Homo sapiens: one gene and its partners. The protein of the gene in region 4 purifies or fractionates together with the protein of the main gene of each other region. This does not show direct contact. Each region holds a gene or a part of one and is shown on either strand. Other genes may lie near its edges.

Evidence for each region.
Region 1: the proteins of CHST3 (region 4) and FCN1 purify together in Homo sapiens (co-immunoprecipitation; one large-scale study listed by IntAct). This does not show direct contact.
Region 2: the proteins of CHST3 (region 4) and OFD1 purify together in Homo sapiens (affinity purification with mass spectrometry; one large-scale study listed by BioGRID and IntAct). This does not show direct contact.
Region 3: the proteins of CHST3 (region 4) and C1QTNF9 purify together in Homo sapiens (co-immunoprecipitation; one large-scale study listed by IntAct). This does not show direct contact.

The regions. Positions count from the first base shown.
Region 1 is NC_000009.12:134,902,729-134,905,378, reverse strand, and holds the end of FCN1 (ficolin-1 precursor), read left to right. Parts: 3' UTR 1-2,147; downstream 2,148-2,650.
Region 2 is NC_000023.11:13,755,241-13,758,799, forward strand, and holds part of OFD1 (centriole and centriolar satellite protein OFD1), read left to right. Parts: coding exon 1-2; intron 3-1,337; coding exon 1,338-1,527; intron 1,528-2,419; coding exon 2,420-2,550; intron 2,551-3,096; coding exon 3,097-3,208; intron 3,209-3,559. UniProt on the Homo sapiens protein: Component of the centrioles controlling mother and daughter centrioles length. Recruits to the centriole IFT88 and centriole distal appendage-specific proteins including CEP164. Involved in the biogenesis of the cilium, a centriole-associated function.
Region 3 is NC_000013.11:24,319,571-24,323,081, reverse strand, and holds the end of C1QTNF9 (complement C1q and tumor necrosis factor-related protein 9A precursor), read right to left. Parts: intron 2,087-3,511; coding exon 1,314-2,086; 3' UTR 551-1,313; downstream 1-550. UniProt on the Homo sapiens protein: Probable adipokine. Activates AMPK, AKT, and p44/42 MAPK signaling pathways.
Region 4 is NC_000010.11:72,011,713-72,014,103, reverse strand, and holds the end of CHST3 (carbohydrate sulfotransferase 3), read right to left. Parts: 3' UTR 546-2,391; downstream 1-545. UniProt on the Homo sapiens protein: Sulfotransferase that utilizes 3'-phospho-5'-adenylyl sulfate (PAPS) as sulfonate donor to catalyze the transfer of sulfate to position 6 of the N-acetylgalactosamine (GalNAc) residue of chondroitin.

The DNA of each region.
Region 1 (2,650 bases), on a different chromosome or scaffold from region 4:
GGTGAAAAGAAATCAAGCCCTCCTCCTCTTGGGCCAGTGCTCTTCTTCCTGGCCATGGGACCTCTCAAGTAGGAGTGTAGGCGTGGGCCCATCCAGCAACATTTGGGCATTCGTGGACATCCACATAGTGTTGTTTCTGTTCTTTTCCTCTCCTTCCTCATCTTCTCTCGTCTTTGTTGAATATTTTTATTATCCCGTCACCTCCTCTATCAGCTTATAACTTGTTCATTCTTTTCCTATCTTTTGGTGTTTATGCTTGCGATTGCAATATATAGCCTTGATTTTTTACGGTATACTATAAATTATTCCTTCTACCACTTTACCAATGAAGACTTTGAAACACCTCTAACTACATTCACTCCCTTCTGCTTTTTATGCCATTCTTGCCGCCATGCTATGATACATTTATTTAAAGTCCTGCAAGAAATGGCTATTAGTATTGTTTTGTGCAGTCCGTATTCATTTTTACCACATTTTTACACTTTATGTTGCCCTTTATTCCTTCTTCTATTTTATTATTATTATTATTTTTGGTGTGAGATCATCTTCTTGCTGCCTGACAAACTCCCTTTCATATATATTTTTTATTTTTATTTTTTGAAACAGGGTCTCACTCTGTCCCCCAGGCTGGAGTGCAGCGGTATGACCTTAGCTCACTGCAACCTCCACCTCCTGGGCTCAAACAATTCTCCTGCCTCAGCTTCCCGTGTAGCTGGGACTACAGGTGTGCACCACTACGCTGGGCTAATTTTTGTATTTTTTGGTAGAGATGGGGTTTCGCCATGTTAGCCAGGCTGCTCTTGAACTCCTGACCTCAAGTGATCCACCCGCCTCAGCCTCCCAAAGTGCTAGGATTACAGATGTGAGACACCGTGCCCAGCCTCATATATTTTTTGATGAAAGTCTGCTGAGGATGAATTCTGTCCACTTTTATTATCTGAAAACATCTTTATTTTGCCTCATTTTAAATAGTATTTAGATTGGGTGTAGACTTCTATATTGCCAATTAGTTTCTTTTAGCACTGTAAATACAGATGTCCAGTATTTTCAGATTCAGTTATTTCAGCTGAAAAGCTAGCTGAAAGTCTTGTTGCTCCTCTGAAGGTAATATGACTTTTTTCAAAAAATACATTTATAAAATTTTTTTTCTTTGCCTTGATAGTTTTACTACAAGGTGCCTGGATGAGACTTTCTCTGAATTTGTCTTGCTTGGGGTTCATAGAATCTGTGACTTGATGTCTTTCATGAGTTTTGAAAAATGCTAGCCATTATCTCTTAAATATTGCTATTACTCTACTCCCTCTTCTCTTTCAGATATTTCAGTTACACCAATGGCCAATGTTTGCTCGTGTCTCATATGTCTCTTGTTCTAGTTTCTGGATTTGTATTCTTTTTTCCTTTTCACATTCAGTCTGGATATTTTCTGCTGACCTATATTCCAGTTCACTAATAATGCTTTTCACTGTATCTAATTTGCTTATAAATAGAAAACCATTGATTGAGTTATTAATTTCAGTTATAGAATAGCCAGTGTAGACTCCAATGCTTGGCTCCACTTCTCCACTTTTTCACCTATTTTTTTCACCATCTTCCATTTTCTTCAACACACCAGTCAGAGTCGTTTTTAAAGACATTTTAAACACCTCAGTGGCCTGTAGATCTTATCTTCTGTTTTTTGTTTCTTTTTAATCTTAGTTTTTTGGCACACTTGGAGGGTTTTGATTGAATGCTAGACATAGTATTCAGGAAGGCAGAGAGGATTTTTTTTTAAGTCAGATTTTTTGAGGTATAATTTAATACAGTAAAATTCACCTATTTTAGTTCAGTTCTAAGAGTTTCCTCTGTGACTTTTCCTTTGGCCCATGGTTTATTTAAAATTGTGTTCTTTTACTTCCAAATTATTTGGGATTTTTCTAGATATCTTTCTGTTCTTGATTTCTGGCTTACCTCTATCAGGGTCAGAGAACAAACTTAATATGATTTCAATTATTTTAAATTTGCCAATGTTTATTTTATGGCCCAGAATATGGTCTATGTTGGTGAAAGTTCAATTTGAACTTGAAAAGAATATGTTTTATGCTGTTGTCTACTGAAAAGTCTATATATAAAAAATAGATTAATAAACTGATTAATAGCCTGGTTCACCACTTTCGTAGCCTTACTGATTTTCTGTTTAGTCATTCTGTTGATTACTAACAGATTCTCTAACAGAGAAGTATAAGCTTTCTAACTATAATGGTGGGTTAATCTGTTTCTCGTTTCAGTTCTAGCAGATGTTTCCTCAATTTTTGACGTTGCATTTTTAGGTGAATGCACTTCTGGAATTGTATTGTGTCCTTGCTGAATTGTCCCTTTTATCAACATGTAATAGCACCCTTTATTCTTGATAATAGTCTTTGTTCTGAATTTTACTTTGTCTGTTATTCCTATAGCCTTTCCAATTTTCTTTCGCTTGGATTTTACGTGATAAGTTTTTTCCCCCATTTTACTTTTAGCAACTCTATATTTTTTAGTTGAGGTTGGGTTTCTTGTAAACAGCATATAATTTGGGTTTTTTAATCCAATCTGAAAATTAATGTCCTTAATTTTGTGTTTATACCATTTACACATAATGTACTCATATATAAGGTTTAACTGAAACCTACTATCT
Region 2 (3,559 bases), on a different chromosome or scaffold from region 4:
AGGTAATTGTTAAGCATGTTGGTTTTTGAAATAGATTTTAAGCAATATATGAAATTTTAGTCATACATAATTTATCCTAAGTCATCCTGTTGAGATGTTTGGACTGCCATTTATATGGCTAAGAAGGTGTTAGCTGAAGTTAATTCAATAGTTCTTAATTTCAGTCAGTGTCACATAGGAAAGTGTAGATAGAGCTTTGGGTCCTGGAGTCCTGCCCACATCCTGTCTGTGTCTCTAACTGCTTGTGTGTCGCTAGGTAAGTTCTGTGACTGCAGGTTCCTGAGCTGTAAACTAGGATGTTTTCCACATTATAGGGTTGTTGAGGGAATTCAGTAAGCTAACTTATGTGCCTAGTTCATAGCAGGTGGCCATTACTATTAGTTTCTACATCAGCCTGTTATCTCCTTCCATCAGCAGCAGGTAAACAAAATTCCTGTCATTACATTGTTATCTTACAGATTAAAACAAAATGAGGTACATTTTTCACATATCATTGCTTCTTTACTTTTCTGTTCATTCGTGTGCTTGCTGTCTGAAGGATGAAGCTGGAACTTTAGGTACTTACAACATATTTTGTATATGAAATTTATTTTAGCAACTGTGACTTATGTGAGAACTTTGTAGGCTTTTTACTCAAATATGAGATATACTAAGAAAAGGGAAGCACTTCACAACATTTTACAGAATCTTTTTTCCTTTCTTTCCCTTTTTTTTTTTTTTTTTTTTTTGAGACAGAGTCTTGTTCTTTCGCCCAGGCTGGAGTGCAGTGGTGTGATCTTGGCTCACTGCAACCAACCTCCACCTCCCGGGTTCAAGTGATTCTCATGTCTCAGCTCCCAAGTAGCTGGGATTTCAGCCATGTGCCACCACACCCAGCTAATTGTTGTATTTTTAGTAGAGATGGGGTTTCACCATGTTGCCCAGGGTGGTCTCGAACTCCTGAGCTCAAGCAATCCTCTTGCCTCAGCCTCCCAAAGTGCTGCGATTACGGGCGTGAGCCACCATGCTCAGCCATTTTTATCTTACCTTTCATATTTAAAAAATATATATTGCTATGATGTGTGATTATTGTTGGGTTCTTGGTTGCCTCTGGAAAATGGGATGATAATCTTAGAAGGACTTGCTTCATGGGATGCGGCCTATAAAAGTTCTGCCCCAACTGTAGGGCGGAAGATAATTTTCGTTATTGTAGTTAGAGTCTTATTGTAGAGAATCAGACTTCTGTCTAGTGACCTTAATTAAATTGTGACACCATGCTTAAAGGAGCCTGCCAGCTTTTACTTTTGCAGTACTGTAAAGTCATTATTCAAATGTAAATTTTCCTTTTTGAATTTTAGCTTGAATTAGAGTCTGTCAAAGCCCAGTCTTTGGCAATAACAAAACAAAACCATATGCTGAATGAAAAGGTTAAAGAGATGAGTGATTATTCACTACTAAAAGAAGAGAAACTGGAGCTTCTGGCACAAAATAAATTACTTAAACAACAACTGGAAGAGAGTAGAAATGAAAACCTGCGTCTCCTAAACCGTATGTATTTTTCTTTTCTTCTGACTTGCGTGTTTTAGTAATTCGCATTAGGTCAGTATTATAAAACTATGCTTTGTACTTGTATAAGGTAGGGGGCTTACATTGGGAAGATTTATAAAATTAAGATTCTTGGATTAAACTCTGCAAACCTGCCTATAGGTGGTATCAAAGCTTCCCTTGCCCTCTGACTGCTGATTGGGTTTGGCCAGTGGGGACACCAGCCTCTACATACAGTGGCCCTAGGCTGGCCACTGTGCCTCATGGCCAAGTGAGGCCATAGTGCCTGCGATTACCTCTTCCAAGTGCTCTGCACCACCACCCTGTCTCTAGTGCTGAGAATTTCTCCCTCCTCTGATTCCCCAGGCCCAAGGAGCGCTAACAGTATGGCCCTGTTACTAGCCCACCCAGGGAACTCCACCATCCTTTGTGCATACCCTGAATAAGTCAACCTTTATTAAAGGGTTCTTAGATGACCTTGACCGTGAGAGCCATCTGCCTTCTGCCTGGATCCCAACTGCTGCTGTCAGATGCCCAGATCATATTGGATCCCAGGGCTGTCATCAACAGGTAGACCAGATAGAGAGCTCCTTCTGTGCACAGTAGAGGAGAGAAACAGGCTTTCAGGTTAATTTGAGAATTTGAAAGAGTTCTTTTACTTGGAGTAGGACTCCAAGGGTAATAAAGTTTGCATTAACATGCACTAAATTCTTTTGTTGTGAAATTTGAGAGTCAGGATTGCTCTGAGCTCATTTAATAGAATTATTATCATATTTATTGAGTCAGTACAAAGCAAAGAACACTTTAAAACCCCTTTAACTGTTTTTGTTAAGTTAAATAAGAAAACTTAAGGTTGGTAATGACTAGGATTTTTTTTTTTTTTTTACCTTCTTAGGCCTAGCTCAGCCGGCTCCTGAACTTGCAGTCTTTCAGAAAGAACTACGGAAAGCCGAAAAGGCTATAGTGGTTGAGCATGAGGAGTTCGAAAGCTGCAGGCAAGCTCTGCACAAACAACTGCAAGACGAAGTGAGTATTGCTCTTCTTCAGTTCTAGTGTGATACCAGTACACTTCATAGTTACGTAAACTTGGCACAAGTCACACTAGTGTAAATCAGATTTATTTTAACATCAAACATTACTCCCCCAAATATGCTAAAGGTATCCTTTCTCATCTGAGAAAATTCTGCAGTGATAACGTGACTTTATATTCGTAATAGTAATAAAATGGAGAAGAAAGCAAACTCACCTAAACATAAAATTTTCTGAGTGCCTGATGGTGCCCACTGTTATCTCTCGATTCTCACCCTGATAAGTATTACAAACATTCACTGTCTTCTGATTTCTGCCTGCATGCCCTAGAGTTCTTTGATATGACTGAAAAAGATGGTGAAGAACTTGTTTGTGTGTTCTGCTTGTGTTTTTTTTTAATAGGGACCCTGTTGTTTACTGTCATAAAGCTTCTTGGAATTGGCAGAACAAAAAGAGTACAAACATGATAAGAGAACTTTTCCTTTTGAAGCAAGCTGTGATTTGTTTTACATTGATTTCTTTTCCTATTCTGAATCTTTTCAGATTGAGCATTCTGCACAGCTGAAGGCCCAGATTCTAGGTTACAAAGCTTCTGTAAAGAGTTTAACTACTCAGGTTGCCGATTTAAAATTGCAACTGAAGCAAACTCAGACAGGTTAGAGACGTTTTAACCCATAAATATTTTTGTATGTATAAAGCTTCTGGTGTCTGTGAAAATGTAATGATCATAATTTATTGAATATTAATTATTGTTTTAGGGGAAAAGCCATAGAAATATGTGTCATCTTAGAAGTAAAACTCCCTATCCATTTTGGTAATACCATCTGGATCATCAGCAAAAGTATTTTGCTTCATAGGTGCCTCATGGCTTGGGAGAGTCTCATGCCCCAATAGGAAAGGCGTGGTGGTAACATAGAAGTCCCCATATTCATTATAGGATTTCCTTTTTTATTTGTTACCCCAATGTTAACACCAATTCAGTAGTTTTACGGATTCCTTGATAGAT
Region 3 (3,511 bases), on a different chromosome or scaffold from region 4:
TGGCTTTGGGCGCCTTGGTGTCTGGTTTGGGGCTGCTGGCTCATTTCCCTCTGGACTCCATGGTGGGCGGGGTGTATGGGACAGGCAGGTGGCTGCACCAGAGGGGCTCAGGAAAGCTCGACGCGGAAAGTGTTAAGACTTTTGGAAATGTTGAGATGGGGCGAAAATGTATTTTGCACAGGTGAAGGAAATCAACTTTGGGAATCAGAGGGCAGATTGTTTTGTGTTGAACTGTGTCTCCCAAAAGAGATGCTGAAGTCCTAACCTGTACATGTGACCTTATTTGAAAATAAGGAGCTGCAGATATGATTAAGATGGGTCATAGTAGATTAGGGAAGCTGTCCTTGTAAGAAGAGGAAAATTTGGCTGATACAGAAGGAGGACAGCCACCTGAAGATGGAGGCGGGGACTGGAGTGATGCTGCCACCAGCTGCCAGAAGCTGGAAGCAGCAAGGCTGCATCCTCCTGTATCCCCTTTGGAGGGAGAATGGCCCTGCTGCTACGGTGATCTCAAACTTCCAGCCTACAGAACTGTGAGAAAGTCCATTTCTGTTGTTTAAAGACTCCCAGTTTGTGTACTTTATTAGAGCAGTCCTAGAAAACACATAGAGATTCAAGTCTGGCAAATAATGATCGAACAATGATTTGTTGGGTAAAATGGTGATTAAAACCTAGGTTAGAAAATGAGCAAAGTGGGAGGGAGAGCACCAGGACAAATAGCTAATGCATGCAGGGCTTAATACCTAGGTGATGGGTTGATAGATACAGCAAACCACCACAGCACATGTTTACCTATGTAACAAACATGCATGTTTTGCATATGTATCCCAGAACTTAAAATAAAATAAAATTTTTTTAAAAGACAAAATGAGCAGTGTCTACAGCTTTCTGGAGTATGACAGCATCACCAGCTTAAAGCTGTTGCTAGTACTAAATTGAATAAACATTTCCCTCTAATTTCCCCTTAATGTCCTCAGAAACACAGATGAGGGATACATCTTCATATGACTCCTCAGAGCACTAAAATGATATTAAAACACTCTTCCCACAAGAAACGCACAGACGAGGGATTCTTCAGATAATAGGAATAAGAAATGTGAAATAAATTAGAATAAACCATGCAGCTATTTTAAATATTTACTCCTGGAAAAATAGTAAGTTACACAGAATCAGTTTTGGGAATAACTTTTCCATTTTCACCTTTTTATGATTATTGTAATAATTGGAGGAATTAATAAAGTAAAACCATCTGAATAAGTTCATCCCAAGCTGATTCTGATGGATGGTGTGGCGGATTTTTAAACTCTCCTCTGTCACGGGCTGCTGAACAGAAGGAACCCTGTGAAAGTTGTGTCATCGTCCTCATCAGCAAACAAGCCATTGAACCTCTCTCCTCCTGTCACCTGCAGCCACACCTCATCCCCGAGCTTCAGCTGCAGGACAATGCCGCCAGAGGCCTGGTCCTCAGAGCTCATGTAAGCATCTTTGGTGTGCAGTATTTTTACTCCATTTTTGACCAAAGACACCTGAACATTTCTGGAGAAAACAGTGATGTGGTAGGTGAAGTAATAGACCCCAGCAATGTGGCACGTGAATTTCCCCGCTGCTGTATCATAATGGTTGAATTCGTTATACAGGATCTTATCAAATTTAATGGGCATATCTGAAGAAGGAAACTTGCTCAGCACCGTGAGCCCCACAGTGAAAGCACTTTTTGGCAAGACTAGAGTCTCACCGATTTTCCCTTTCTCTCCTCGATCTCCTTTCCAGCCTCTTATTCCCCGGACTCCTGGCTCACCCTGGGGCCCCGTGGGTCCAGCTTCTCCTTTGGGACCAGGCTTTCCAATAGGGCCCATGGGGCCCGGTAAACCAGTTGGGCCCAAAGGCCCAATGTTGCCCCTTGGCCCCTCAGGACCAGTGGGACCCACGTCACCCTTATTCCCCTTCTGCCCCTGAGGCCCAGTCTCTCCTCGGAGGCCCTTCTCTCCCATGGGCCCTGCAAGCCCCTTGGGGCCATGTTTTCCTGGGGATCCTCTTGAGCCTTGATCACCTTTGATGCCTTTTGCTTCAACTTTTCCATCTGCTCCTAAATAGAGAAAGAGCAAATAAAGAGATAGCTTGTGAAAGATTCCCTTGTGAACAACTTTGGTTTTTCTATAATTGAGCTCACAAATGAAACAAAGTAGTGCACAGGTTCAGTATATGCCCAGAGTTTAAAATTCAATTACTCCATCTGGGTGCAGTGGCTCACACCTGTAATCCTAGCACCTTGGGAGACCGCGGCAGGAGGACTGCCTGAGGCCAAGAGTTCAAGACCAACCTGGCCAACATAGCAATACCCTGACTCTAAAAAAAAAAAAGAAAAAGAAAAATAAGAAAATAAAATTCAATTACTCCAGCCCAGCTCAGTGGCTCATGCCTGTAATCCTAGCACTTTGGGAGGCCAAGGTGGGCAGACTACTTGAGTCCAGGAATTCAAGATCAGCCTAGGCAACATGGCCAAACCTTATCTCTGCAAAAAATACAAAAATTAGCCAGGCGCGGTGGTGCACAACTGTAGTTCCAGATACTCAGGAGGCTGAGGTGGGAGGATGGCTTGAGCCCAGGAGGCTGAGGCTGCAGTGATCCGTGATCAAACCACTGCACTGCAGCCTGGGCAACAGAGTGAGATTCTGTCTCAAAAAAAATAAAAATAAATGAAAATCAATTACTCCAATTACACACGTGTGTGCACATGGACACACACACATCCCAACACACCTTTTGACTACCGTCTACTAAATTAGTGTCAGGGCTCACGTTAGAAATTACAACCCTACCATCTAAGTCTACCATGCTGGCCATTAAATAATGTCAATCCATGACAGAAAGCACTCTTCAGAGCAGAGACAGGTAGATTAACTGACACTCAACCCTAGTCGTGACATCCTCTAAAAACCTCCTCCCTGGAGTGAACATAAAATAAAGCCTGCATCGAGGCATTGCCCTCTCCTGCCCAACCCCAGCCCCAACCCACCTATCCCACCGGCAATTCATCATCTACAGAAACCTTGCTGCTTCCTTGCACCCCCACCCATACCAAAGAGCCGTGGTTGCAAGTGTGGACTCTGAGGTTAAATGCCAGGTTTCCATTCTGTCCCCATATGCACACAGGACGTCAGATGAGCTAGTGAGCCTCGTGCCTCTGTTCCCTCACATATGGAACTAGGGTAATAAAACTACCTAGCGTCTGGGGATATTGCATTCAGTGAGTCAGTACATGAAAAGCACAAAGTGAAGATTACACAAGTTTGCCACTACGACTACATCCCGACCCATCAGGGACCAGTTCTAGTTCCACCTCCTCCATGCAGTGCTGCCAGATGCACCAAGTCAAAAACTCAGTCTCACTCCTCAGTGCTCATCCACTGCAAGGTTCAAGGTTCAACAAACTACAGCCACAGGCCAAATTCAGCCTCCCTCCCGCAAGCTAAACAAATATGGTTTACATGTTTTTTTGTTTTTCTGGGTT
Region 4 (2,391 bases):
AAGGCCAAATAAATCTGAAATGCTATCTGAACACGTGAAGCAGATCAAAACGCACAGTGACTCTTGTTGAGAGGGTGCCGCCTGCCCTTTCAGCTGACTTTTGAATCCCTAATGGGGCTTTTTGGGAACAATGTTTGTGAACAACTGATTACACCTTCATTCTAAAAGGAAACTGGTGTCCAAGTAAGGGAAGTGACTTATGCAAGGTCACACAGCCAGACAGTGGCAAAGCTGGGACTCATCCCCAGGCCCCCTGACCGCTGGCCCAACACTCCTGTCTCTGCCCCCAAATACCTGGGTTTTCTCTCTCTCCGCTCAGCGCAGTCCCCATCAGCTCTGCCAGCCTGGTGACGCAAGGTACATTCATCCTGCCCCATATTCCCCTAGTGCCTTTGGTCCCTTGGGAATGGGCAGGGGGATTCTCTGTCCTGCTTCATGCTGGAAGTCACCTCCTTTCTACCACTGTTAATTAAAAAAAAAAAAAAATTATGACCCAATTGCTGCTGAGAACAAATGCAAAGGAAAAGGCAGAGACACGCTGCAGGTTTTGCTCATTGCATGATTTCATCTTTAATTAAATAAGTCAAGTAGGCCATCAGGAGTTGGGTTCACATTCTATTCTGCAAAGCAGGCCCTGACTGCTGGGGCTGCCAGCTCTCTGAAGGGCAGCCCCAGCGTTTCCAGGAGACGGCAGATTGTCTGTGGCCATGGCAAGGACATCTGGGACGACAGTGACAGCAATGGGGCTGGGAGCAATGTGGAACGGCGCCAGAGGCTGAGCAGAATGAGCTACATGCTACACATACACACACGTGGATGCATATGTACATACCATGGCAGTGTATGCCGTGAAGGGGTGTCTCGTACCATGCAGACATGAAATAGCAAACAGGGCTGAGGTGTTGGCAAAAAGACAGTGTGCAGGACCTGGGAGGGAGCAGGGGAGCCAGGAAAATTTGGACTAGAATATACAGCTGAGATGGAGACTTCAGGGGGTGCCCAGTTCAAGCCAATGGCAGAAGACGCAGACCACATGGGTCATTGTATCCCCCCAGCAAAGCACCTGATCCATGACATGAGCTAGGCCTGTGAGGATGGCGCCATGTCTGTAGCCTTGGAAACACGTAACAAATTTGTCCCCAGTCCAGTTACGGGGTGCCAAAGGACACGAGACCAAAGGATCTTGGAGCTCTTGAGACAAGTGAAGTTGCCAATTCTGCTTTGTGCTTTTGAGGTAAAGAGCAGCTTCCACTGTCTCTGAAACTGCAGCGAGTTGACAGGTGATGCGGCTGCATTTAGGAAGCCCTGGACCCTCTCCCTTCCATCTGGCTGCGCCTTGTCCTAGAAGCTTCACAAGCAAACCCACCAACTCAGGAGCCCTGGATTTCAGCAGATGGTCCTTCTATCAGCTTGTACAGATCAATAAGACACACTTGGCTTGTGCAGGCATCTGCTTCCACTCAGCCCCAATTTCTCTCCCCTTAGCTCTCCTTGCCTCAGGTATCAGCCCTTGAGATCTGGCTTCACTTTCTGACTTTGGGAATGGGGATGGGAGGGGACTGCCTTGAGGACACAGCCATCCAGTCTTCTGCTCCTGTCTTAGCAAGGGACAAGCCCTACAGTCAATTGGTCTCACCATGTTGCCCAGGCTGGTCTCCAACTCTTGGGCTCAAGCAATCCTCCCACCTTGGCCTCCCCAACTGCTGGGATTACAGGTATGAGCCACCGCACCTGGCCTCTACGGTCAATAGGCCCTAGTATAGGAGAGGATGACCCGGGGCTGGAAGACTTTAGGGTCAGGATATCTCCTCTACCACCCAGGCCAAGAATCAACCTTCTGGGAAGGACCTCCTGCTGAAGCTCCTTCCATTGCCAGACAGACAGATGGCAGAGATGGGAGGGAAAGATGTCGTGTGATGCCTGGTGCCCTCTGTTCTGTGGGGTTTGGTCAGCAGCTGCCCCACTACGCCAGCCTCTGGCAGTAGCTCCCAGGCTGAGGGTGCTAGCAGACCGGAAGTAAACTTGTTATTAAACATCTCTTTTCTGTTTATTTTCAAGTGCATGTATTGCAGAAGGACAAAAGCCTAAATTTGCTTTATGTTCCTCAGCTTTTGGAAAATAACTCGGTGACCACCTGCGGTGTATGTGACAGAGACTGGCTTCTATGCACATCTGGTCTTCTCTTTCCCTCTCTATGGGGACCTGAGAATCCTGCCCTCCACTAACTACTCCCAAGGACCCTCCAGGGCCCTCATCCATTCCTCAATTTATAAACAGGTCCCGAGGGGAAGATGGGAACAGGCAGAGTGGGGACAGCCTGTGAGCATTGGACGCTGCTGTGTCTCACCAAGGCCTGGAACGTTCTGAGCCATTTCTATATGCTGGGCCGCA